2 separate regions of the Homo sapiens genome follow, and region 2 is linked to region 1. The links come from fine-mapping of genetic effects on gene expression. A gene starts in region 1. The other region holds a variant in brackets. All regions are shown on one strand. Distances are between the middles of the regions. Region 1 holds the start of ITM2C (integral membrane protein 2C). Region 2 overlaps GPR55 (G protein-coupled receptor 55).

Region 1 (12,312 bases):
GGATCTGTTAATGTTCTGGCACTTGACCTGGGTACCTTGTTACATCAGCCCTAGGAAACTATTAGAAAAGACATCTACGAAAAACTTGCCACTAAATTACATTCCTAGTGAAACAGCAAACACTTGCTCTCTAGGATCAGAAAAAAGGTGAGGATGTTCACCGTTATCACATCTATACCACATTGTACTGGAGCCCTTACTTGTAATCCAAGAGAAAGAAAAGGCATAAAGATTGAGGAAAAGAGGTAAAACTGTCTTTGTTCTCAGATGATGCGATTATGTATATAGAAAACCCAATGAACCTATTTAAAATACCATGACTAAAAAATGAATATATACAGGTTGTAAAGAATACAAGGTCAGCTGGGTGCGGTGGCTCAAGCCTGTAATCCCAGCACTTTGGGAGGCCAAGGCGGGTGGATCTTGAGGTCAGGAGATCGAGACCATCCTGGCTAATATGGTGAAACCCCGTCTCTACTGAAACTACAAAAAATTAGCCAGGCATGGTGGCGGGTGCCTGTAGTCCCAGCTACTCGGGAGGCTGAGGCAGGAGAATGGCGTGAACCTGGGAGGCAGAGCTTGAAGTGAGCAGAGATCGCGCCACTGCACTCTAGCTTGGGCGACAGAGTGAGACTCCGTCTCAAATAAAAAAGAATACAAGGTCGATTTTCCAAATTCCATTGTATGTCTATACATTACCAATAAAGAATTATAAAACGAAACAAATAAATGCAATAGCATCAGAAACATAAAATACTTGGACATAAATTGAACAAAAGATGTTCAAGACCTCTATATTCTCTATACTAAAAAAAACACAACATTTGTGAGAGGAATTAAACAAATGGAGAAATATACCATGTTCATGGATTTGAAATCAAAATTGTTGAGATATCATTTTCCCCAAAATTGGTTTATAGATTTAACATAAGCCCAATTAATACCAACAGATTTTCTTTTGTAGAATTTGATAAACCAATTCAAATGGTTATTTGGGTATTCAAAGGATCTAGAAAAGCTCAACAGTCTCGAAAAAGTCAGAGTACTCATACTGTCTGATGTTAATACTTATTAGAAATCTAAAGTGATCAAGATAGTGTGAAATTGGCATAAGGATAGAAAAAAATAAACTAATGTAACAGAACAAAGAGTCTAGAAATAAATCCATTAAACGTTGTCAATTGGTCTTTGACAAAGATGCCAAAACAATTAAATGAGAAAAACAAAATTTCTTAAACAAATACTGCTGGGACACCTGTATAACCATATGGAAAAGAAATAAACCTCAATCCCTACCTCATACCTTACATTAAAAAATCAATTAAAAGTGGATCACAGACCTATATGTGAAACCTAAAACTATAAAGCTTCTGAAAGAAAGAATATGAGAATATCTTCAAAATTTGAACATGGGTGTTTAAAGAATTTTTAGACAGGACATTAAAAGCACTAACAATAAAATTAAAATTTATACATTGAGCTTGATCAAAATTATAAATTTCTACTCATGAAAAGACAAAATTTTAAAAGTGAAATACCACAGTCTGAAAGGAAATATTCACAATGAATATACATGACAAAAGACTTGTATCCACAATATAAAACGAATTCCTACAAATCAATAATTAAAAGACAGTCTAAATGACCAAAAGACTTAAGCAGACACTTCACAAAAGAAGATATACAAATGGCCAATACCACATAAAAAGATGTTCAGCATCATTAGTCATCAGAAAAATACAAATTAAAACCACAATAACATAAAATTTTACTAAATACAATTGCTAAAATTAAAATAACTGACAGCACCAAATATTGGTAAAGTTGTGGAGCAACTGAAACTCTCATACATTGCTGGTGGGAGTGTAAAATAGCACAGATATGTTGGCAGGGCTGTGCTGAAATGGGGAGAGAGTCATGTGAATGGTCTGTCCAGATCAGGCAATAAGGGAGTGCAATTTCTGCACAGAATTTAAAAATTATAATAAAACTAACTAAAAATTGATCTACTTTACATCATCACAATGCATTCGCATTTCTAAACAATGTCAGTGATAAAATATGTCTGTCTTGTAGGGTGGGCCATTTCTACCTCATCCTCACTGATGCTATTTACTCAAGAGAAATTAAAACAAAAATACATGTAAAGAAATGTCCATAGCAATTTTATGGTGGAAGACTGAAGGCAACCCAAATGTCCATGTCAGGAGAATGGATAAACAAGTTGTAGTGTATTTAAAAAATGGAATATTACTCAGCAAGTAAAAAGAACAAACTATTGTGGATGAACCTCATAAACATATTGAGTGAAACTAGACACAAAAGAATACATGTTGTACAGTATATGAAATTCAAGAACATGGCCAGGCATGGTGGCTAACACCTGTAATCCCAGCACTTTGGGAGGCCAAGGTGGGTGGATCACCTGGGGTCAGGAGTTCAAGACCAGCCTGACCAACATGGTGAAACCCTGTCTCTACTAAAAACCTCCTTTAAAAAAATGAGCCAGGTGTAGTGGCACACACCTGTAGTCTCAGCTACTCGGGAGACTGAGGCAGGAGAATTGCTTGAACCCAGGAGGCAGAGGTTGCAGTGAGCCAAGATGGTGCCACTGCACTCCAGCCTGGGTGACAGAACAAGACTCTGTCTCAAAAAAAAAAAACAAAAAAAGAAAGAAAGAAAGAAAAAGAAAAAGAAAATAAAATAAATTAAAGAACAGATAAAACTTAATCTATAGTGATGGAAACCAGAACAGTGGTTGCCAGTGGTGGTGGGGATTTACTGGAAAAGAATGGGAAGAAATTTTCTGGAATTATGGAAATGTTCTGTATCTTGATTGGTTTGTTGGATACATGAATATATATCTTTGTAAAATAGTTTTTCATTTTACCTAAAATTTTTTTTTAATTACCTTCAACACTTAGCTTTCAGCTAGCTCCTCAGTGGAAAAGAGGGGCCTCTGAAGGGGGCAGGTGGAGGTAGGGGAGGTGGAGCTGAAGATAGCTGCTGCTCTTGTCAGAAGAACAGGATCTCAAACTCACCCACTCCCTTACTCAGAGCATGTGATTGATGGAGCACACTTCTCCTTGAGAAGAACTCTGAGGACAATGGGCACACCCTTGTCTGAGCCCGTTACATTTCCAGAAAGCTAATCTACTGACCCTCTATGGATTTGTTACAACCATAAGTCTTACATAACCAGTGCTTTAAATTGTAATAAACTAGATATCTTTGCAAACAACATTCAACTTCTAAATTTTGAGAAACAGGCAAATACATGTAAAAGTTCTCATTTCTGATTTTATTTTAACTAGAGACGGGGATCTCGCTATGTTGCCCAGGTTGATCTTGAACTCCTGGGCTCAAGCAATCCGCCCACCTTGGCCTCCCAAAGTGCTAGGATTACAGGCAGGAGCCACCGTGCACAGCCTGAGATTTTATTTTCAAAGTGAACTGTTGCAGGATTGATTCCAACAGCCCTTCCCACTGGAGCCAATCACACCAGAGTTGATGAGGGAAGGGAAGAGTTAGTGGAGAGGCCTCAGCCAAGAGGCTCAAAATCAACGCAAGGAAGATGAGGACTGAAAAGCAGCTTGGAGATTTCAGCCAGGTGGAGGTGGAGGAATAGAAGCCAGATTGAGGTAGGATGAGTGTAGGGAGTGATAAGGAAATGGAGACTGAATTTTCAAGAGGTTTGGCTAAGAAGAAGAAAAGATAAACAGGGTATCAAGTGGAGGAGGACGTGGGGTCAAAGAAGGGGTTTGTTTTTGTTTTAAGGCTAATACGAGCATGTTTCAGAGCTGACAGGAAGAGCTGAAAGGTTAGGAGGCGGGGGCTGATGGATGTCTCAGGTGTCTGATAGGAGGGGAGGGGTGGAATCCTCATCTAGAGAGTGGCTGGAGAGAAAAGACAGACGCCTCTTCCGCGGCGAGTGGCAGGAGGAGCAGTGGGCAGAAGGGCAGCTGTGGATGGGGGCGGATGTGCTGGCAGGCAGGAGGGCGTTCTTATGTTGATAGACATAAGCCACCTAAAGCCATGGCTTCCAGATCCTCAGCAGCTGAGCTGCTGAGAGGTGTGCAGCAGTCTGGAGAGGGCAGGATGTGGCCGTTGAGAGTGTGGACAGAGTGACAGAGCAGCAGTTCCCAAACCCGAGTGTGCATCAGAATCACTAAGGGCTTGGTGGGCACAGAACACACCCTGAGTTTCGGAATAGACATAGAAAGGGTTTGCCTTCCTAACAAGTTCCCAGGTGCTGCTGGGGCTGCTGGCCGAGGTCCTTGCTTGGAGAATGACTGGTTAAAGAAGCCACAGCTGTCCCACCCTGCAGCTCCAAGGGGACCGCTTTGCATGGCTGCCACCATGCCCCTCCAAGAGGAGGTAGCATGCTGGTCCCAAGGGGCATGATGGTATCACTTTCACCAACAGAACTTAGCAGTCCCTGAGCAGAACCTGGAACCAGAAAGGGGGACAGGAGAAGCTCTGCCACTTGGGTAAGATGCAAGAACAGAACAAAGAGGATTCAGGTGCTGGCAGGAATGGCTGTTGGACTGAGCTGAGGGCTCCTGGCCCAGAGTCACTCTCCTCACTCCCAGTGCGGACTCTCATTTCCCTGTCACTTGTCCACACCCTGTGTCTTTCCAGTTCCCACCCAAATCTCCTGTCTTGCATGGAGCCTGGGCTGCACCACGACCGCATTCACCCTGCTGTCCTTCCCTGAGTCCACAAAACTCAGTATGCGACATGGACCTCCCGCAGCCTCCTGGCTCCCCTTGGATTATTGACTGGCTATACTGTACTCCATCAAATATAAGATGCTATCACTTGTGAAAGACATTACTTAATCACTGCCAATTATAATTGTAAAAGATATCTTGATTCTCAAGATGTTAAAATGTGAAGAAATGTGTTTCTTAGAATCCATGGAATATGGATTCTTGAGCATCTGAACAGGTGATCTGCAGAGCATGGTGCCCCCCAAGACCCATTCAGGGGGGTCTCCAAGGTCAAAACTATTTTTTGCAACAATATAAGTCATTATTTGCCCTTTTCACTCTCATTCTCTCATTAGCGTGCAGTGGGGTTTTCCAGAGACTACATGTGTGATGACATCGCTTTGATGCCCAATGGAATATATGTATTCTTGTGTCTTAAAACTTTCTGAGTTTTAGTTTCTAATATGGTAAATGTTGATAGACATAAGCCACCTAAACAAAAGCTCTTGGGGTCCTGAAACCAAAAAATTTAGGAATCACTGCACTAGGTTGTACGCCCAGCACTTGGCCGGCATTGAGTCCATGGTCAAGCGTAAGGAGAGGCCCGAGGGGGATGTGCACAGTGCTGAAGGTGCACAGGAAAGGGACTTATCCCAGCCGGTCTGGGAAGGCCTTCCAGGGGAAGTGGGGTGCTCGCCTGCCAATCTCAGGCATGTGGATGCTTCACCCAGGTGGCCCTGTCTTGCTGACCAGAGATTTGTGCCAAACCAGCTCTGCGACCCTGGGTTTAGTCATGCTACCTTCTATCACTATTAACATGAGGCTAATGTGTAGGTCACAGAGGCTGTGATGAAAATTAAATAATTGAATGCACGTGAAAGAATGCCACTCATAGAAGGTTTCACATGACCACATCCTTGGTGGCTGGGTTGTGTCTTGGGCATCTCTGTTTTCTGCCACAGAGCTTAACACAATGCTTGGCACACAGGGGTGCTTGGAAAACACTGAGTGAAGGAATGCATGTTGGGGGTGTGGCCTAAGCAAGACGTGGAGCTTGCCTTCTCCAGACACCAGGTTTCCCATGGGATCTGGAGCAGGTGATGAGCGGTAGTCCATAACACCTTCCTCTCTGGCTCTGTGCCAAACCAGATTCCTCCTCGTCTCCTCCAAACCATCTGTCTTCTTCCACCTCCCCATTCCCTCCCCCCAGTTCCCCAGGCTGGTGGCCTTAGCATCAGTTAGACTTTCTTCTTTCCCCACCTGTCTGTCCTCAAGGTTGCTAGGTTCATCCAAGATCTGAGCCAAGAGGTCCGGGTCTGGGACGTGGGCGCTAAGGGCCCAAGGCAGCTGCAAAAGACCTGAAAGGTGAGAAGAGAGATCAGTGGAGGACCCCGGACTGTCCTCAAGAAGCGGACGGACTCCCCTGCCCTCCACTGGCAGCCCAACAGCAGAACCAAAGCGGACCACTCAGCACAACCTGTGTGTGTTGCTGGGCGCTGTCCCTGGCCCAGTCTGGACCAGGAGCAAAGAGGAAAGATTCAGGGCGTTAGTGCCAAGAGCAGCCATCCCAGCAACAGAAGCCCCTGCTTCCCCAGTACCCGTGATACTTGGGAGGAGCAGAGTCTTGAGTGGAACCCGAGCCTCTGACACCCGCCCTGGGGGTCTTCCCTCCACTCTCGCCAGGGTCCTCCTGGATGAGTGAGACAAGGGCAGTTCAGGAGGTCACCCAATAACTGAGGTCGCAGCAACACGAAGGAGCCAGGGAGCAGGGGCGGCCTTCCCTTCTCCACTCCAGGCGGCTCCAGCGTGCACCCCAGGACCCCCCAGGAAGGTTTTGCAGGAATAAAGAATGAAGGCAGAAGCAAGATGGAGGATGAAGGAGGCGTGGATGGCTTCAGAAGGCAAGACGGAGGCAGCAGTTTGGCGCCTGTCTCAAAGCCTCCTCCCCGCGCCAAGGACAGGTCGGAGGAGGGGGGCGTGGGGACAGGTAGAGCGGAGGCTCCAGCGTTTCTAAAGGGGAAGACCTGAAGTGGGGCAGGAGAGACGGGTGAGTTGTCTGGAAGCTGCATTTGCCTGGCAAACACTGGGTTAACAAAGACTTGCGTTGCGGGGATGCTGGCCTTGGACAGGGAATGCGAAGGGATTATGCTACGGAGAACGGATCCGAGCGTGACGGCTGAATGAATGAGTGAGCGAGTGAGTGAGTGAGTGAGTGAGCGAGCGAGTGAGTGACTGTGCGAGCGAGCGGCAGAAGGAACTCCGACCCGCCCCAGGTGCGGAGCGGCGCGCCCGGCAGGGGTCACTGCGGGCCCCGCGGGCGGGAAGGGGGCGCAGGCGCGGCGGGCGCCGGGGCCCTCCCGCGGGGACGGGGCGGGGAGGGCTGGGGGTGGGGTTAGAGAGAGGGACGCGAGCGGGATCCAAACTTCCGGTGCCTGCAGAGCTCGGAGCGGCGGAGGCAGAGACCGAGGCTGCACCGGCAGAGGCTGCGGGGCGGACGCGCGGGCCGGCGCAGCCATGGTGAAGATTAGCTTCCAGCCCGCCGTGGCTGGCATCAAGGGCGACAAGGCTGACAAGGCGTCGGCGTCGGCCCCTGCGCCGGCCTCGGCCACCGAGATCCTGCTGACGCCGGCTAGGGTGAGAGGGTCTGGGGCTCAGGCGGTGGGGCGGGGGACCCAGGCTCACGACCCAGGCGCGCCCCGTCGGCCCTGGGGACTGCCCGAGGCGCGTCAGGGCCCCAGAGCCCGGGGTGGAGCAGGGTTGGGAAGTCTCGAATGGTTGCTTATCCCAGAATGAGGAGGGGGCTTAAGTCCCGTACTAAAGCGGCAGCCAAAAGCTGAAGTCCGAAGAGTGGGAGGCGTCTGGTTCTGGTCTTCAGGTGGAGAAGTGCTCGAGGTCTCTTCCAAAAGTGGGGGCCCCCTCGCCGCCTTATAGGGGGAGGGGGCTGGTCCGAAGAAGTTCGAGGAATGTTGGTGGGGGGGTACGCGTCTGGTTCCAATCAACTGGGAAAGCCGCGAGTCGAGTCCCCAGGTGGGGGATGGGAGGAGGGTTAGACGTAGTTTTTCCAAAGTAGGGCGGTGGGACCTGATTGGCTGGGGAATTGGGGGTGGGGGGGTCTGGTACCAACGAAGAGGGTGGGGCCGTTGATTTCCTCCGAAATTGGGGGCTGCGAGGGACAGAGGATGTGCTGCTGGCCTGCACCGGAATTGACAGACCAGAAAGTGATGAAATGGAAATCAGCCAGAACCGACGGCGCTGCGGCCTCTGGACGTCGGGGGTCCGAGGCCGGGTGCCCCCTTCCCACCCCACGCCCTGCCGTCTGGGCCTCCCTGCTCCCCTCTCTTTTCTCCATTCCCAGCCTCTCGCTGGGCTGTCCCCCGACCCCACGGGGAGGGCTCCCAACTGCCCCAGTGCCCTTGCATCCTGGGTCCCCGGGCTCTGTGCGCGTTCCCCCACCCCTGTCATCCCCCTCCCCTACCCCGGCTTCCTCCACTTTCCCTCTGGCCGGGGGGGAGAGAAGGCATTTCCGCCGTGGAAAACTGTCTGAGCTGCGTGCCTTGTGTCCGGGAAGGGCCCGCAGGGGGCAGAACGCGTGGCGGGCAGGGACAGGGAGGGAGGGAGAGCTGGCCCAGCCAGGTTTTATTGTGCCTGGCAAAGGTGTCTACGTGGGCGCCGCCCCCAGCGGTCTTGTGGCTTACCAAGCCCATGTCCTCCCCGCCTCCCCACCCCGCATTGAGGCAGGACTGAGAAAGTCTTTGTCCACTGCTTCCCCACTTCCAGATGCAGGCTTCTGAAGAGTCTTCCTGAACGCCTAGCCCCCTCCCCAGGTTTTGTGGCTCAGGTTCAGTCTTGCCTGGGGCATTAAGGGGCCTGCAGAGGATGACCTGGACCCTGGAGGAGGGGGCGCCGGAGAGGGCCGTCAGAGTTGGGTGTCAGCCTGGGCAGAGACCCTGAGTGAGGAATGCCAGGAGACTGAGAACCCCCTGCCCTTTTATGGTGGTCACTGCAGCAACCAGTGGCTCAGAGCCACAAGAGTTCAACAACCACCTAGGCGAGGTTGGGGGTTGCTGTGCACCCCATGAGAGCAGCTCCCCCCTTTTCATCTGAAGCTTAGGTGGAGGGGGCGCTCCATATTTGAAGAAGATGGTTCTGCAGCTTTAAAAGTTTGCAAGGGGTTCTTCAAGACTCCTTTTCTTTGGAAGGGAAGCTGCCCTCCACTCAGCCTGGGGAGGGGCAGGGATGGGGGCAGGAGGCAGCACGCTTGCCCATCTCTTTTCCTAGCCACCTCTTCCTGGAGATATTTGAGGAGGGAGGACCAGGTCAGACAGTGGGAGGGTGTTATTCCAACTCCATCAGAAGGTCCCCCAGATTTTGCAGGAGCGGCACATTCTCCAGCCGCAGCCTGCTGATGGCATGGGTTTGGGCAGTCTGACAGAGACCTGCATCTCGGGGCATAACTGACATCCTAGCTTCTGGCTTCTCATCAGGCTCTGAAATTGAGCGTCCTTTCTTCCCCCTCACCCAGCATGAAATGGAAATATCAACATCTTCCTGCGTGCTGTTTGTAATGGCCTTGAGCCTGCTGAGTACCTCCTCCCTCAAACTTTGTCAGTTGGGCAGGGTCCCCTCCCTCTCTAATTGGCAAGGGGGAGCTTAGGACTATGCGATCTGGGGAAAGAATTAGAATCCTGGCATCTTTAGGACAGAACTGCATGTTAGTAAACTTTCACAGCTTCCCAAGGCCCTGGCGTGGTGCAGAGGGACTTTAGGTGTTGCAAGTTGGCTCTGCCCATCACCTGCTAGATTTGGAGCCTTGGAAACAGTTCACTTCTGCGGGCCTCCTGTTGCCCCACTTGGCCAACCCGCACATTTCCTCCTTACCCAGTTTCTGGCAAGGAGCCAGGCCTCGTCTCCTGCCCCCAGCAGTGAGCAGGCAGGAGGCCCATTTCTCAGCTGTAGCTCTGTGAGCCGAGGGATGGCAGCCAGGAGGCTGCTTTCTCAGGGCAGGGCGTGTAGATTTTGTCCCGTACTGTTGGGAATGCCCAGGAAAGCTTATTAAAACGTTTCTTCTGGCTGGCAGTGACCCCAGAACCCTCCTTGGTGTCTGAACTGGACTCCAAAACAAGATTTATTTTATTTTATCTATTTTATTTTATTTTATTTTTTTTTTTGAGACAGAGTCTCACTTTTACCCAGGCTAGAGTTCCGTGGCACGATCTTGGCTCATTGCAACCTTCACTTCCAGGTTCAAGTGATTCTCCTGCCTCAGCCTCCCAAGTAGCTGGGAATAAAGGCACCTGCCACCATGCCCGGCTAATTTTTGTATTTTTAGTAGAGACAGGGTTTCACCATGTTGGCCAGACTGGTCTCAAATTCCTGACCTCAGGTGATCTTCCCACCTCAGCCTCCCAAATTGTTGGGATTACAGGTGTCAGCCACCACACCCGGCCCAAAACAAGATGTAAAAAGTGATCCGCAGGAGGAGCACTCGGTGAACAGATGATTGTGCGGTGAACAGATGATTGTGCGTTGGGGCAGTTCTTGACCTGTGTCCAGGCCCAGAGTGAGGGCGGGGTGGGGGCAGGGTGAGGCGGCAGGAGCACCCTCTCGGTGGGCACTGCCCCTGCTTCTGAGCAAAAACTGCAACACAAGGAGGATTTTGTCTGTGGACCTGAGACTGGAAGGAAGTGCCTCAGTGGGCCAGGGAGGGATGGGGGTGGGGGCCAGCTGGGCTTCCAGCTGCCCGGCCTCCCCCCCTGGTGTTTTGACTCTGAGATAATGAGGAGCTGGGACACTGCCAGCTTGGGAAGTGGGCTGGACCGGAAGCACCCCCTGGGACAGCAAAGCACTCCCTCCCAGCGCCAACTGGATCCCTCCTCCCCTTTGGGGGCCCACTGGCTGGCCATGCCCCTCTTAGCCTGCCCCTTCTCCCCACACCCTGCCTGTGCCTGCACTCACACACACACACACACACACTTATGCACACACATGCACGCACAGATGTGGGCATGTAGAGGCTCACGAGCTGGGGCTGTAAGGGGAGAAAAACAAGTTAAATACAATCATCTTCTTACCTCTGTAATTTTCTCCTTGGCATTTGCCTTTGATTAATGGTCCTGTGTCACCCCCTCCCCAGCCTGCATACCTGGGGATCAGATTTCAGTTTCCTAGTGTGTCCTGGTCTCAGGCCCTCGGCAGGAGGAGCTGGGTCTCCTGGAGCGGTTGGGGGAGGGTCCCGTGCCAGCCAGGAGGGCAAATCTGGCCAGCTTAGCCCTACCCCAGTGTCCTGATGCCCACTGGCCAAGAGGGCCTGGCCCGAAAGCACTTTGTGGAGCAGCGGCCCTGCTCCATCCAGGTCCTTCCCTGTGGCAGCGTGGGGACTTTCATGGCTGTCGTCCATTCCTGGGATTTGGCGCCCCGGCAGGCCCCACGGTGGCTTCTCTGCTTTCCTGCCGCTTCTCTCTCCATTCCCTCATTTCTGCTCTCTTCTCTCAGCAGTCCTTGCATGTTTCAAGACCGTCAGCAGATTGCCAGTGAGGATGAGTTTCTCTTAGTGTGGAGAAAAAATGTTTATGGTGAAATCACAGAGGCACAACCTGGCCAGCCCCTCTGTCCACCGCCCCACTCTCTCCAAGTTCCCTCTCCCCATGAGGGCTCTTCCAGCAGTGAGCTTTTGTTGTCTGGAGATGCCTTGACTATCAGGGATGGAAGAGAAGAGGGAATTCGCCTGGCCCAGCCAAGCCGAGAGCGCATCTGCACAGATGCTGCCCGTGGGGCCTGCAGTCTGGAAGGGAGGACAGGAGAGTGATGGGGACCCCTGACCCTGTTGGCAGATGGCATCTGTGCCTCTGGACCACTGGGCTCTGTGTGCTCAGGTGGACAGTGTTTGCCCACTCTCCTCTCCCCCAGCTAGGCTCTGTCTTGAACACATACAAGACACACACACTCGGTGGGTGCCCTGGCCTCTGTGGTCTGGAGCCTGGGAAAGAAAGCTGCTGAGGACCAGGAGAGATGTGGGGGAGGTGAGATGAGACTGCCTCCCCAACCCCCATCTTCCCTGTTCTCAGCCTGGGCCTCAGGAGTGCGTTTCTGGCTGCCGAACCCCTCCAGGCAGGCTGCAATCTGCAATCATCGTTAAATCGGCTTGCAGTTAATTTGGACATTGTTACTGGGGGATGGGGCCCGGGAGCGCTCCCTTCCAGCTGTGGGGGTCTGCCGAGTTAATGCTACAGTTGGCTGGTTTCCCCCTGACCATTTTGGCCCTGGCTTTGGTAAATCATTTAATGAGTGCCCCTGTGGGTCTCAGTTTAAGCCTGCAGGGAGAGGCCCAGGCCTCTCTCGGGTCCCTGGACTTCCGGCTCATGCGCCCTTCGCTCAGAGAGCTCTGTTGCCTTGGAAACAATATGCAATATTTTTCTACTATCTAAATGGGAGCCCCCCTCCTCAGATACCTCACTGTCAGTAACTGCTTCCTATGGGGAGCAACATTTTTCTGGGTCCCCAGCATGATAGGTGGTGCGGCTGGGGTCTCAGGAAGGTGGGCCATTCGGCCATCTTTCTAGTGAGCTGGGCACCAGGGATCCCAAGGGGCCAGGGCTCTGGG
Region 2 (12,312 bases), 44 kb after region 1:
GCAAGCTGGAAGAAGGGTGGTAGTTTGCAGTGGTGGGGACAGGGGATACCACAGGAGGGGATTAGGAATTGGGAAAAGGACTCACAATCGTGTCAAAGGCAGAATCTGCTGGGAGTGGTTGGGCCTTGGAGATGCTTGATGGGGTGACAATTAGGTGACCCCAAGTACTTTCATGAGAACTTTTATAACATAAGGTTAGGGAGCCGGATGCAGTGGTTCACACCCGTAGTCCCAGCATTTTGGGAGGCTGAGGCGGGAGGATCACTCGAGCCCAGGAGTTTGAGCCCAGCCTGGCCAACAGGGTGAAACTCCATCTCTACTAAAAATACAAAATATTAGTCAGGCATGGTGGCAGGTGCCTGTAGTCCCAGCTACTCGGGAGGCTGAGGCAGGAGAATCACTTGAACCCGAGAGGCGGAGGTTGCCATGAGCTGAGATAGCACCACTGCTCTCCAACCTGGGCAACAGAGCAAGACTCTGTCTCAAAAACAAAACAAAAACAAAAACAAAACCATAAAGGTAGGTAAGGTCATCCTCTGATAGTGGAACTTACTACATAGATACATGCCAGGAGGCAGTAATAGTAATAAAATATCATATAAGACGATGATGATGGTGAAACTGGTATGACCTACTTCACCAACTTAGATTACAAAATGGTCAAATTTCTTTTATTGCTTAATTTATTTTTCCCTATGGGTCTTTTAGGCAGAAGACTTGCCCCCAAATTACTCAAAGACCCCAGGGACCTCCTTTGCTTCCACACCTGAGGGAGGAGAGCCAGGGTTCCATCAGCCCCTGCTGCTGTTTCTCCAAGCTGTCACAAGGTGACACTGTTGCAGCTTGGTGTCTCAAGGAGGGACGCTGCTGCCCCAGACGCTGGGATGCCCTTGGTGGTTGAGGTTCAGGCTTAAGACTCTTCTTAGTTATCATTTCACACTCGGCCATCCCTTCCCAAAGCATAGCTCCTGGGGCAGGGCGGCTGGGTTTGAAGGGGTGTCCAGTATCAGCCACGTTCCATGCTGGCCAGAACAGTGTTATCAGTTGAGATCCCCCTTAACACAAGGTGATTTATTTTGGGGGCCTCATTGCTTGCCCCTGCCACTGATTCTTGGATTGCCCTACAACTCCTAGACAGGTATCCCTGACTTTGCATCTCTGAGATTGGGGACTGGGATATGGGTGTCTTTGCTTTCAGAGGGCCCTGGGACTCTGCTTCCTATAGTGCGGCATACAAAGAGGGCCGGCCAGCTTCTCTAAGCCCCACAAACAAAGGTCCTGGGTCAGCCCAAACCCCAAGAGGAAGAGGATGGGACCCTGGGGGCTCACATTTGCATAACAAAGCGGGCACACAAATGATCCTTCACCAGAGGAAGAACACCTGTGCCCAGGTTCCTTATGTCTCTGCCTAACCCAAAAGTTCTCAACCTGGGGATCAGGAGTAGAATTCACGGGTGTCATGAACTTGCTGAGGGAAAACATTACATGCTATTTTCACTAATCACTAACTGAAGGTAGCATTTCCTTCCATTACGCACGTAGACATCACACCACAGTACGATAGATGGTGTGGTTCCTGGGACTTGTCACCAATAGACATCACAGATACTCTCATATCCCACTACAGTTGCTGCAGATAATTCAAAATAACTTCTCAGTTCATCATAAATTCAAAATTATGATAATCATTAAACCCATCACTAGATCTTGTTATCCAGTGCCTAAAGAAACATATATTGCTACGTTGGTGACTACATTTCCATATATCTGGTTTCCTCTCTAATTCCATGCATTTTTACTTGATGCATGTGAAACTGCCCTTCTGGGGAAGGTCCACAGGCTTCCTCCTGACTGCAGGAGGATCGATGGCACGAGATGAATTAAGACCCCATGGCCTGCTGGGCATTGTGGCTCACGCCTGTAATCCCAACATTTTGCGAGGCCAAGGCAGGTAGATTGCTTCAGCCCAGGAGTTCAAGACCAGCCCAGGCAACATGGCGAGACCCTGTCTTTACAAAAAATACAAAAATTAGCCAGGCATTGTGGTGTGCACCTACAGTCCCAGCTACTCAGGGGGTTGAAGCAGGAGGATCCCTTGAGCCCAGGAGGTTGAGGCTGCAGTGAGCTGTGATCATGCCACTGTACTCAGCCTGGCAGACAGGAGTGAGACTTTGTCTTAAAACGAAACAAACAAACGGAAAAACAAAACAAAAGACCTAGTGCCAGAGCTTTCATCATTCTCAGAGGCTGCCTAAAGCCCTACCTGAAAAGGATGCTAGGTTTGTGAGTCCAAAGGTCAGCCGGGGAAGGTGCAGGGCTACTGTGGTTCCCAAGAAGAGCCCAGACAAGCATTCTGCTGAAGGAGCCTCAGACATGAAGGTGCGAGAGCATTTAACGCGGAGGGCTTGGGGCCTGCAGGAGTGAGCTGCGTGCCCAAGTGTCATACGGATGCCTCTGTTGAAAGGCCCAGTCCTCGATGGGCACCATGGCTGTGACCAGTGTGGACTGAAACCCAGGGTTCTCTGCAAACAGTGCAGTCATCAAGGGATGCCCCAGCTAGGACCCGCGCAGGATCTTGGGGGCGGAAGGGATCCAGTGAAATGGAGCTGGAGCATCCTCCAGTAAACCTTGGTGAATTAGGGCAAGTTACGTTCAATTTGAAGAAATAAGAGAAGTGTGACTTCTACTCCAGGTTAGCCTAGAAGCCGTTCCTGTGAATTGAAGTGTCCCCCCCAAAATTCACATGCTGGAGCCCTAACCCCCAGTGTAACAGTATTTGGAGACATGGCTTTTAGGTAAAATGAAGTAAGGGTGGGGCCTGATCCTGTAGGATTAATGTCCTTAGCAGAAGAGACACCAGAGAGTTTGTTTCCTCTCTCTCTGCCTCTTAGGACACAGTGAGGAGGTGGTCATCAGCAACCCAGGAAGAGTGGCCTCACCAGAAACTGACCCTGCCAGACCTCGATCTGAGACTTCCAGCCTCCAGAACTGTGGGACATAAATTCCTGTTGTTTAAGGTACTCAGTCTGCAGTGTTTTATTATGGCAGCTCAGGTAGACTGACAACATACTTGCCATATATGGGTGTTTTTTGCAGTGTAAAGTCCCAGGGAAGAAATATCAATAGCTGACAGATCTCTTAACCATCAATTTCATCCCACTTTGTTCATATAATTGAAATAGTCCTGTCTTTGGGGTCATATACCCTTTAATAATACTCAGAGAATAATGACTTTGCTCCTCACACTCCATTAATATGGGAAGTCCTATTTTCTGTGGGTTCCCCCCTCCAGGCATCTCTGGGTCTCATGCTCTGCTGTAAAGCTCATACTGATTCCCCTTGGTGAAAGCTGTGCCCTGGCTGCGACTTGAAGTTGGTACTGAAGATTTAGGAAACTGAAGGAAATCCACAGCAAAGAGGCTGGTATCTACTGCCGAAGGGGGCCACACCCAGTGCCCAGTGCCCAGTGCCCAGCAACGCGTGGCCCATCTTGGGGAGGGAGAGGTCTCTCCACCTACCTAATGCTGTCTGGAGACCCATCCCCACAAACATGTCCCACCCTGAGCCGGTCCTCTGGAGCCCTCCTTAACCACTCCAGGCCCACTGGCCTCAAGGCTTCTCCACTGCCCTCAGGGAAACCCCTCCACCCACTCCCAGAACTGTGCTTTGGCTGGGGGCTCACACAGCGATCACTGGGTCATTGGACATCAGTTTTCCCCAGTCAGGGTCATTCCGTCTGAAATGCACTAGGCACTGACTTGGGGAATCGGCTGTTTGGAAAATCTGGGTTTAGCCAGATCTAGTCAACTCTGGCACAACTTTCCTAAACTCTGTGTGGCCTCCACCGGCAAGCCGCTCCGAGACACCACTTGAACGAGAAACGCACACGTGTGTATGCATTCTCATCTGCACTACGCACAGCCCAAAGCCACCTACTGAGAAGAGAGGCTTTTTGGAGACATCTGTCTGCACCCTAAGCAGCCTTTGCATAACTGTGCTGGCCCCGGTGGAGATGCAGGTCCCCCCTGCAGGCAGCGTCTTTGTTACACTCACTCAGGCGTGGGCCTCCGGAATAAAGCTGTCATCTGAAGCCTCAAAAGTGAACCAGAGCCGCGTCTGGCTTTGAAGTGACAGTGCTTCTGATCCTACCTCACGAGACTTCAAAGCACAAAGGGCCACGTTTCTGTCGTGACTCATGGTTGAGGCACCATGTGGCCTTTTCTGCAACAGCTTTGCAAGGAGGTCATATCTTGCAGGCTCCTGGCCTGGGAGGGAGCGCTCAGGCCTGCAGTGGGGCAGAGGGACGTCTGTTTTGTCCTTCCACTTCAAGCTCCTGGAGTCCCTCTTGACCTGCTATCCACACCCCCTCAAATGGCTGTTCATGGCTCTGTGCCCTCGGCTCACTAGAGAAGCCAGCTCTGGGTGGAAAAAGCCAGTGGGGCCTGTGATGGTAGTTTCAGGGGAGTGCTCACC[C/G]AGAAAAGGCACCTTTGGCATGTCTTTGAGTCCTCTGTCCCCCCGCAGTGGTAAGGTTGTCAAGTGGTCCCTGCCAGCCTTTATTTGGCCCTGGAAAGTCGCTGTCCACAGTACAACTGACTCTTGAGGACAGTTGAAGGGTGGTCTGGCGTGGGCATCCCCACACAGCTCCTCCTGCTATGGGGATGTCCCCACCCTTGCCTCTTGACTGTTCTGCACGCCAGCCTCTCCTCACACCCACACAGTGGCTCTGCCCAATTTCTTTCCGCACTGGTCTATTAACTGAATCCTTTTTAACCTCTAGGAATCTCTACAACTGTTATCAGGCCTCAGTCATTTCAAGCACCTTTGCAATCTCCATCCCTTTGTGGTCTTGCTACAAGGGTGTTATCTTACGCTTCCAGAGGTCTTTGGTATCCTGTGGCAATTACATAGTATTAGTATCATGACTTTCAGCTTCCGAGGGTCCCCAGAGAGGTAACTCAAGAGGAATATAGTTGACAAATGCACCTTGTGAACTGACATTCTCCAAGTCAAATCCTCCCTGGGGCCAAGCGGAGGTGGTCACTATCCCTAGGGGACGTGGCCTACATGGGGGGTGGCTCCTAGATTAGTAGGAGATGGTTAGATGGAGCAAAGATGTCCCCCTTGGCCCTCAGCACCCACGCCATGATCAGCTGCGCTCGGGATTGTGGGGAACTCAGGACAGAGAGTGGCCCAGGCCAGAGCCTAGCAGGGCACAGCTTCTGGGAGCTCTCCAAAGGCTAGCAAAATTCACTGTGAAGTGCGGAAAAGAACCTAGGAGAATCCACCCTTGGAAAGTCGGATTCCCACCACAGGAGGTCAGAGAAGGGAGGGAAGGGCCACCGAGGAGGACCTCTAGAGACTGGCCCTGTGTCTTCAGCCCCTCAGTTCTTCAGCCCCTCAGTCGGTCAGCAGGTTTCTCATACTGGGCCCCCCACCCCTGTGTATGCAGAGAAGCCAGGGCCTGTAGAAGCAGCTGCAGTGTCACGGTGGCAGTGCGACAAGGTGGTGGTGGGACAAGGTGGCAAGGGCAGGGTGGGGTCGACTGCAGCCGAGTATGCGGGGTCTGTGTAGCCTGGCTGCTACCACAGAGAACCAAGCACCCGTGTGGATGTGGGGGAGTGGAAACTAGACCCCAAAGGGTCTGGCTCCTGGTCACCTGGACAGGCCCAGCTGTGCTCCTGAGCAGGGAGGGCCACTCCCTGCAGCCCCACACTTGGTGGCCAGGTGGCTGCTGAAGAGACCAAGATTGTTGGGTGACCTGGCAGGGGCCATCTGGGGCCTGCTCTTCTCCGGGTCCAGTAAGCTTAGTCCAAGACAAGGTCACAAGGCATCACATGAATCTATTTATTTGGCGAATCAGATTAATCAAGTCATTTTTTCCAAAGCTAACCGTCCGCCCCTCCTGTGCTGCTGGGCCCCACTGCTGATTATGGGCCAGCTTGGGTTGCAGCTATGTGGGTCCAAACTCTCGGCCCTCCTGCCGAGCAGCCGTAGTGGCCTGCAGCATGGACCTGTGCCCGCTCCCACAGACACGGGTCCCCACGGAGAAGAGGCCCTTCTTTCCACAGTGTTTTGGGATGGGTCAGGGGTCCCCAGGGCACACCCACAGGTCCATAGTTGTCACATCACACTGAGACTGCTGATACCCTCCAAGGACCTTCCTCTTACAGCCATGCAGCTCCTGGGTCCTGGCTCCCCTCCCCGTCCCTCCCTACATGATCAGGTCCTCTCAGCTGTCTAGAGCCCTTTCTGTCACCTGGAGAGAGTCATGCTGCACATAGATAAGATTTTATGTTTGAACATCGCTGGGGATGATAGTTGGTTAGGTCCACCCACCCTTGTCTCTTAGGAAGCCCATCTGGCCTTAAGCACATTGGTAGACCCAAGTGCACATGACGGGCATCACTCAACTCCACCAGGCAGGCTCCCAACTCCTCGTGCAGAGAAAGAAGTGGGAGGAGGGTGGTCACTAAATCCACCACCCGTAGACACTGACCCGAACCAGCCCCAAATGCCCCGTTGCATGTGAAAGTCTGGCTCCCTCAGAGTATCACGGGTGGGTCTCTGTCTAGGGTGGCCATGGGAGAGGGCAGCCTGCAGGCAAGGAGAGGAGTGTCTGGGGTTTGGGGCAGCCAGGCAGCCTTACCTCTGGGTCTGCAGAGCCTGACTCTGTGGCTGTGGTTCTTAGAGGCCCAGCTCAGGGGGCCTGAGCCTCCGATCCCTCTGGTCTGGTCTGGTCTGGTCTGGTCACTCCTCCACATCCACTTCCACCCCTTCATTGACGCTCTCTTCCTCACCCTTCCCTCCATCCACCTAGGAGGAGGTGTACAGGGTGCCACTTGAACACAGCAACAGCGGGAGCTGCTCCTGAGAAGGCGACTCCTGTCCGTCCATGGCTCTTAGGCCAGCTGGGAAAGCTCTCAGGCAGGAAGCAGCTCAGCCAGGTTCCCCACCCACCCTGCACTCCCTGCAGGCTTCAAGCCTAGGGCCACGGCTCAGCTTCCCCTCCTTTTCCTCTTCCTCTTCCTCCTCCTCCTCCCCACAGGTCCAGGTTTATCCAAATGCTTCTCTTCTTCCCCTCAGGTCACCACCCCTCCCAAGCCCTTCAGCCCCCACTGAGCCCAGATCCTACAAGTAGACCTCAGTTGCTTTTCCTCCTGAAGACCTTGCTCACATGAAGTCTCATCAGTTACTCCTCATCCCACTCGCTCTGTCATGCAAAACCACCCCACAATGGATCCTTCTCATCATTTCACTCTCCGGAGCAGCTGAGTCATTGGGAGGCTTCCGCTGTCACTTGCACTCCTCCTCCAGATCCGTTGAGAAGCCATCCAGGCGTGACTCAATTGTTTACAGTTTCCTGGGACCAGCAGGGACCCCCCCTTGCCTTCTTTCTCAAGGCCACACCCTTGTGCCTAGCTGCCTCATCTCCCTCCCAGCTGCCAGGGAGGGACGGCTCCATGGGCAGTGCCACGGGTGCCAGCTGCCCAGCCAGGATGCAGGTGAGTAAGACAGCACCTCCTCCACCCTCCTATGGTGGAACCAAGGCAGGCCTGATTCTTTGCCATTGTTTTCAAGGAAGCTAGCTGTAATGAGCAACTTCCCAGTCTGTTTAAGATAGAAAGCAGGTCGGGGTCTCCCCGCTCCCAGGCCGTCTCTCACTGTCTCTCTTCACCCTGGGCCAGCACCAACACTCCGTGCTGTGGACACCCTGATGGTGATAGGGGAGGGGCTGTGTGCTTCCAGCCCTGGGCCTGTCTTCTTCCTTCCCCAGAAGTGTCCTTTCCTCTCCCCCCTCATGGCTCTTGGATGTCATCAACACCCCACTCAGTCATTTTGCAGTCTTCTCACGGGCACGGAAAGGTGTGGCTGGCTTCCTTCACCTTTCTGAGGCTCACTGGAAACTTGGGGTGATCCATGCTACTTGCCCAGCCCCAACACCACCCCTTCTTGCTGTCATCTCAGTGAGGCTTTTGGCAACACAGTTCCAGAAGGGACTGGAAAATGCAAGTCTGCTCTGTTCTGGGACACCCAAACTAAAAAGGGACTTCACTCATCCCTACCACCCCACCTCTGCCCAAGACACTCTCCCCAATAACTGACTCTCTTGGCTCCCTCCTTTACCTCTTTTCTCTCTCTCTCTTTCTTTCCAGAACCTCCCAGTCGAACAGGAAAATGGGGAGAGTTGGAAACAGCCTTGTTGACATGGTCTCATTCTCTTTCTCAATTCTTCTGCTCTATAGTTTTTGGACTTAGAAATCAGTAATTCACCTGGTCTGTGGGTTCTTCAGAGATCCCTGAACACTGGGTGGTATAAGCTGTCTGGGCAGTGGAAAAAAGGTCTTTGGGGTATAATGAGCAAAGCTGGCACTCAATGGGCATCAAAGGGAAGCACATCAGTGAAGATGGTGCGGATCATCCCACCACATCAAAACCCTGGAACGCGATATCCGTTACCAGAATTCAGGGCCAGGGCTTTCTTCCCCTGAACAGGATGTCCTTCCGTTAGCCCCGGGAGATCGTGGTGTCCTGCAGGACCAGCTGGACCCTGGAAGGCCGGTGGGCCCTGATGTTCATGCGGAATTCTTTGATGACAAAGTAGTAGCAGAAAACATCCAGGCAGCAGTTGACGTTGGAGAAACACATGGACAATTGCAAGAAGAAGCTGATGCTCTGCTTGGCTCTGCACTCTACGATAAAGCTGTTTCTCACCAGGAACTGCAGGAAGAACCCCAGGTGGACTGGGAGGAAGGAGACCACGAAGACAGCCAGGCTGGCTGCGATGCTGTAGATGCAGGCTTTCTGCTGCACCCAGTCCTGGGTGTGGTCTCGGCGGCCCAGCAGGATGTGGATGCTCCTGGAGCAGCAGAAGCCCATGATGCCCATGGGAAGGAGGAAGCCAAACACCTCCAGCGGGAAGAAGACCTTGGCGCTCCAGGTATCATCAGACATGTTGTGGAAGCACATGTATTTTTCCACTTTCCCATGGAAACTGTAGATAGGGATGCTTCCGGTCCACACCAGGACCCAGATGGTGCAGCAGATCCCAAAGATCTTCCTGGGGGACCGGAGGTGGCTCACCAGTAGCGGGTAACGGATGGCCAAGAACCGGTCCATGCTGATGAAGCAGATGGTGAAGACGCTTCCGTACATGCTGACGAAGTAAAGGCACTCCACCAGGGTGCACAGGGACGGGAAGGGGGACTGTACCTGGGACAGGACCATCTTGAATGGGAGGGAGAGCACCAGCAGCAGGTCAAAGACTGCCAGGTTGATCATGTAGATGGAGGTGGCAGCATAATCGGGCCACCTGTTCTTAAGGAAGGTGCTGAAGCCATGGATGGCCAGCAGGTTGAGGAGCAGGCCCAGGACGAAGGTGGGGATGTGGACTGCAAACTGTAGGGTTTTCATCAGCTCGTTGACACCGTCAAACAGGCAGTCCCCACTGGTGTTTTGCTGACTCATGTTTCTTCCTACAACACCAACAGATCAGACGGGGCTCCTTTCACTCTCTTGAAGTGATGGATTCAAATGACTTTGTCAAGAATCACAAACACCTCCCCAGCATCACACAGCAATTCATGCCCATTGAATCACAACTAGAACACAGAAAAGAAAAATTACCTTTAATCCTGCTGCCCAGATGCAACCACTGTTACTTTTTGTGTATATCATTCCAGACTCGCTTTCTCACTCTCTTTCTACCATACACACATTTTTCTTTGACAAATATAGAACCTGCTGTGCATGGACATCTGTCTTTTAAATCAGAACTCCTTTTGTTGAAAGAAGTAACAGCACATACCCAGACCCAAACAGGCTGAAGCAAAGAGACAGTTTCACATAATGGAAAACATGAAAACTAGGGTAGGGCTGACTTCAGGAGCAGCTGGATCAGGGATTCAAATGCTGTTTCCAGGACTCAGCTCCTTTTGTCTCCTTTGTCCTCCTCCCACCCACTTTCCTGATGGTTGGACACAGTCAACCTGCAACCAGGGATGATTGACACCAGAGCGTTGCATTCCCCTGGACACAGTAGCTGGTTAGTTCATTGGTTCAGGGACAGATATTTGACTCTCCAAGAAGCCATGATAATCAACACAACTTTTGCTTGGGTTTCCAGGCAGAGGGTTGGAGTCCCTTGTCAGGGATTCATAGTTGCCAAGATATAAGGTCTGCAGCTGCTGCAGCCTCTTGTACCCCAAAGAGAAAACCAGACAGAAAATGGAGAGATATGGGAGAAATGGCATTCCCAGAAGGAATGGAGCGGGGCCCTGAGGTCTCCACAGGGCAAGGAAAGGCCTTTTGTCGGGCAGAAAATTAGAAGTGGCCTCAGGGACGGGAGGACCAAGGCTGCAGGTGTGGTTGCACAGGGGTGTGGTCCGAGCCTGGTCAATTTGGGGTGAGGGGGTGAGTGCCATTGTGGGGTTCTGCATCAAGGTATGTAGCCCTGGAGCAGGAAAAAACCAAGTGTTCAATCCAGGCATCCAGAACCAGGTTGCTAGAAGGACTCAAATACGACCCAACTTCCACCCTCTCCCCACTTGCCCGCCTCTGCCCACCTCCCTGCTCCCTCCTTTCTCACCCACTCTTCCCTCTCCCCACATGTGAGGCCATGCTGCTGGTGTACTTGACTTGGACTGGCCTTAGACATGGAATGTGCCACATTCACTAGAGCACAGGGGCATGGCATGGAAAGGACATTTATGCCTGGCATCTTCCTTAACCACTTCGGCAGAAAGCAGCTGGGTGAGCAAGTGCGGCCAGGTCCTGCCGTGAGACCCACCTTCCTGTGCCTCTCCCACCTCCCATGACTTCCTGGCTAGCAGGTGCTGAGATCCCAAGATATCGATGTATCAGGGAGGAGACATCAGCATGGACTCCCACCAGAGAATCCCATACTAGTGACCACTGCAGCTATTTATTTTTATTTTTATTTTTATTGTTTTTGAGATGGAGTCTCACTCTGTCACCCAGGCTGGAGTGCAGTGGCACAATCTTGGCTCACTGCAACCTCTGCCTCCCCAGTTCAAGCGATTCTCCTGCCTCAGTCTCCTTCATAGCTGGGATTACAGGCATGCACCACCACGCTCACCACCCCTGGCTAATTTTTTGTATTTTTAGTAGAGATCAGTTTTCACCATGTTGACCAGGCTGGTCTTGAACTCCTGACCTCAGGTGATCCACCCACCTCGGCCTCCCAAAGTGCTGGGATTACAGGCGGGAGGCCCCGCACCTGTTCCTAAAACTTCTGTTATTAATTAAAGCTTCTGTTATTATTTTTCATAGCTTTTTATTAATTTTAAAAGTATTCCAGGCGCTCAATAAGATATTCGAAGAGAACAAAAGAACAAGCGTAGGAAAGTCAGCCTCCTTGTACCCTAAGGCCTCAACTGTCCTTTTCAAAGGCAGCATGGCTTACAGCTTCTTGCATATTCCTCCCAGACATTTTCTAAGTAGATACATATATGCAAATATATGCATGCATACATATACATGTATGACTTCTTTAAAATTTGGAAATAATATACCTAGAGCCCCTGTCCCTTGCTTTTTCGCTCATCAATGTTTCTTGGACATTGGTCTATATCAGCATATATGAATGGCTTGTTTGCCTCCCATTGTGTAGGTATACCAAAACTCATTTAGCCAGTAGCTTATTCATAAACATTTAGGTTTCCAGTATTTTACCAGGAAACAATGAATTCCACAATAAGCATTCCTATGACTTATTTCTTTGCTGTGCAGCTATTGCTAACAGAATTCTCATTCTGCTATTGTTTCTCATCACTATTGGGCGCCCGTGGGAGGAAAAAATTGGGGTGTGTTTTAAGATCTTATATGTAATACCATTCCCAAGCCCTCTCTGATCTCTAATGAAAAAGAAAATCGATATATATAGATAGATGTTTATAGGTTCATATATATATCATCCATTGAGCACTACGCACTAAACATTTAACATACATTACTTGATTTGGTGGCTTTCCAAAGATTCTATGGTTTCCAATGTGTTAACTTTTCTCACAGATTTATGTAATGAGAGATCTAGGAAAAAATACTTCCTCTTATTCAAAGCCTTGGTGTCCTGTGGTCTGTGGGGATGGTGCCTCCTAGGGGTGTGTAGGAGTAACTGGTCCTACTCAGGATGCTCAGAATCTGCAAGGTGGGGTGGCCGCCTCCTCACTAAACATGCTGAAATGGCCACAGGCCTAGCTCAAAAAATTACTGGAATAGCTTGGAACTCACAAGGCAAATTTCAAAAATGATGAGAAAAGCAGGTCAAAGCCCAGTTCAAGTCTAAATGTAAAA

Evidence for each region.
Region 2: its variant is fine-mapped to the expression of ITM2C in whole blood (TOPMed, PIP 0.96).

What each region holds. Positions count from the first base shown.
Region 1 is chr2:230,857,800-230,870,111 of GRCh38, forward strand. ITM2C (integral membrane protein 2C) reads left to right here and starts at 7,143. Exons shown (of 6, transcript NM_030926.6): 1 at 7,143-7,346. The coding sequence starts at 7,227. RefSeq lists enhancers at 4,091-4,701, 5,827-6,485, 7,144-7,802, 7,803-8,459, 11,751-12,312 and silencers at 6,893-7,262, 7,363-7,452, 8,243-8,342.
Region 2 is chr2:230,901,498-230,913,809 of GRCh38, forward strand. GPR55 (G protein-coupled receptor 55) reads right to left here. Exons shown (of 2, transcript NM_005683.4): 2 at 5,831-9,599. The coding sequence starts at 9,465. The coding sequence ends at 8,506. It overlaps GCSIR (GPR55 cis regulatory suppressor of immune response RNA), which reads left to right. Exons shown (of 4, transcript NR_038238.1): 4 at 2,892-3,020. Among named protein-coding and RNA genes, the nearest start is that of GPR55, 18 kb to the right of the region's middle. RefSeq lists silencers at 831-910, 981-1,040 and enhancers at 6,955-8,154, 7,210-7,319, 7,330-7,449. The variant C/G (reference allele first, on the strand shown) is at 4,474.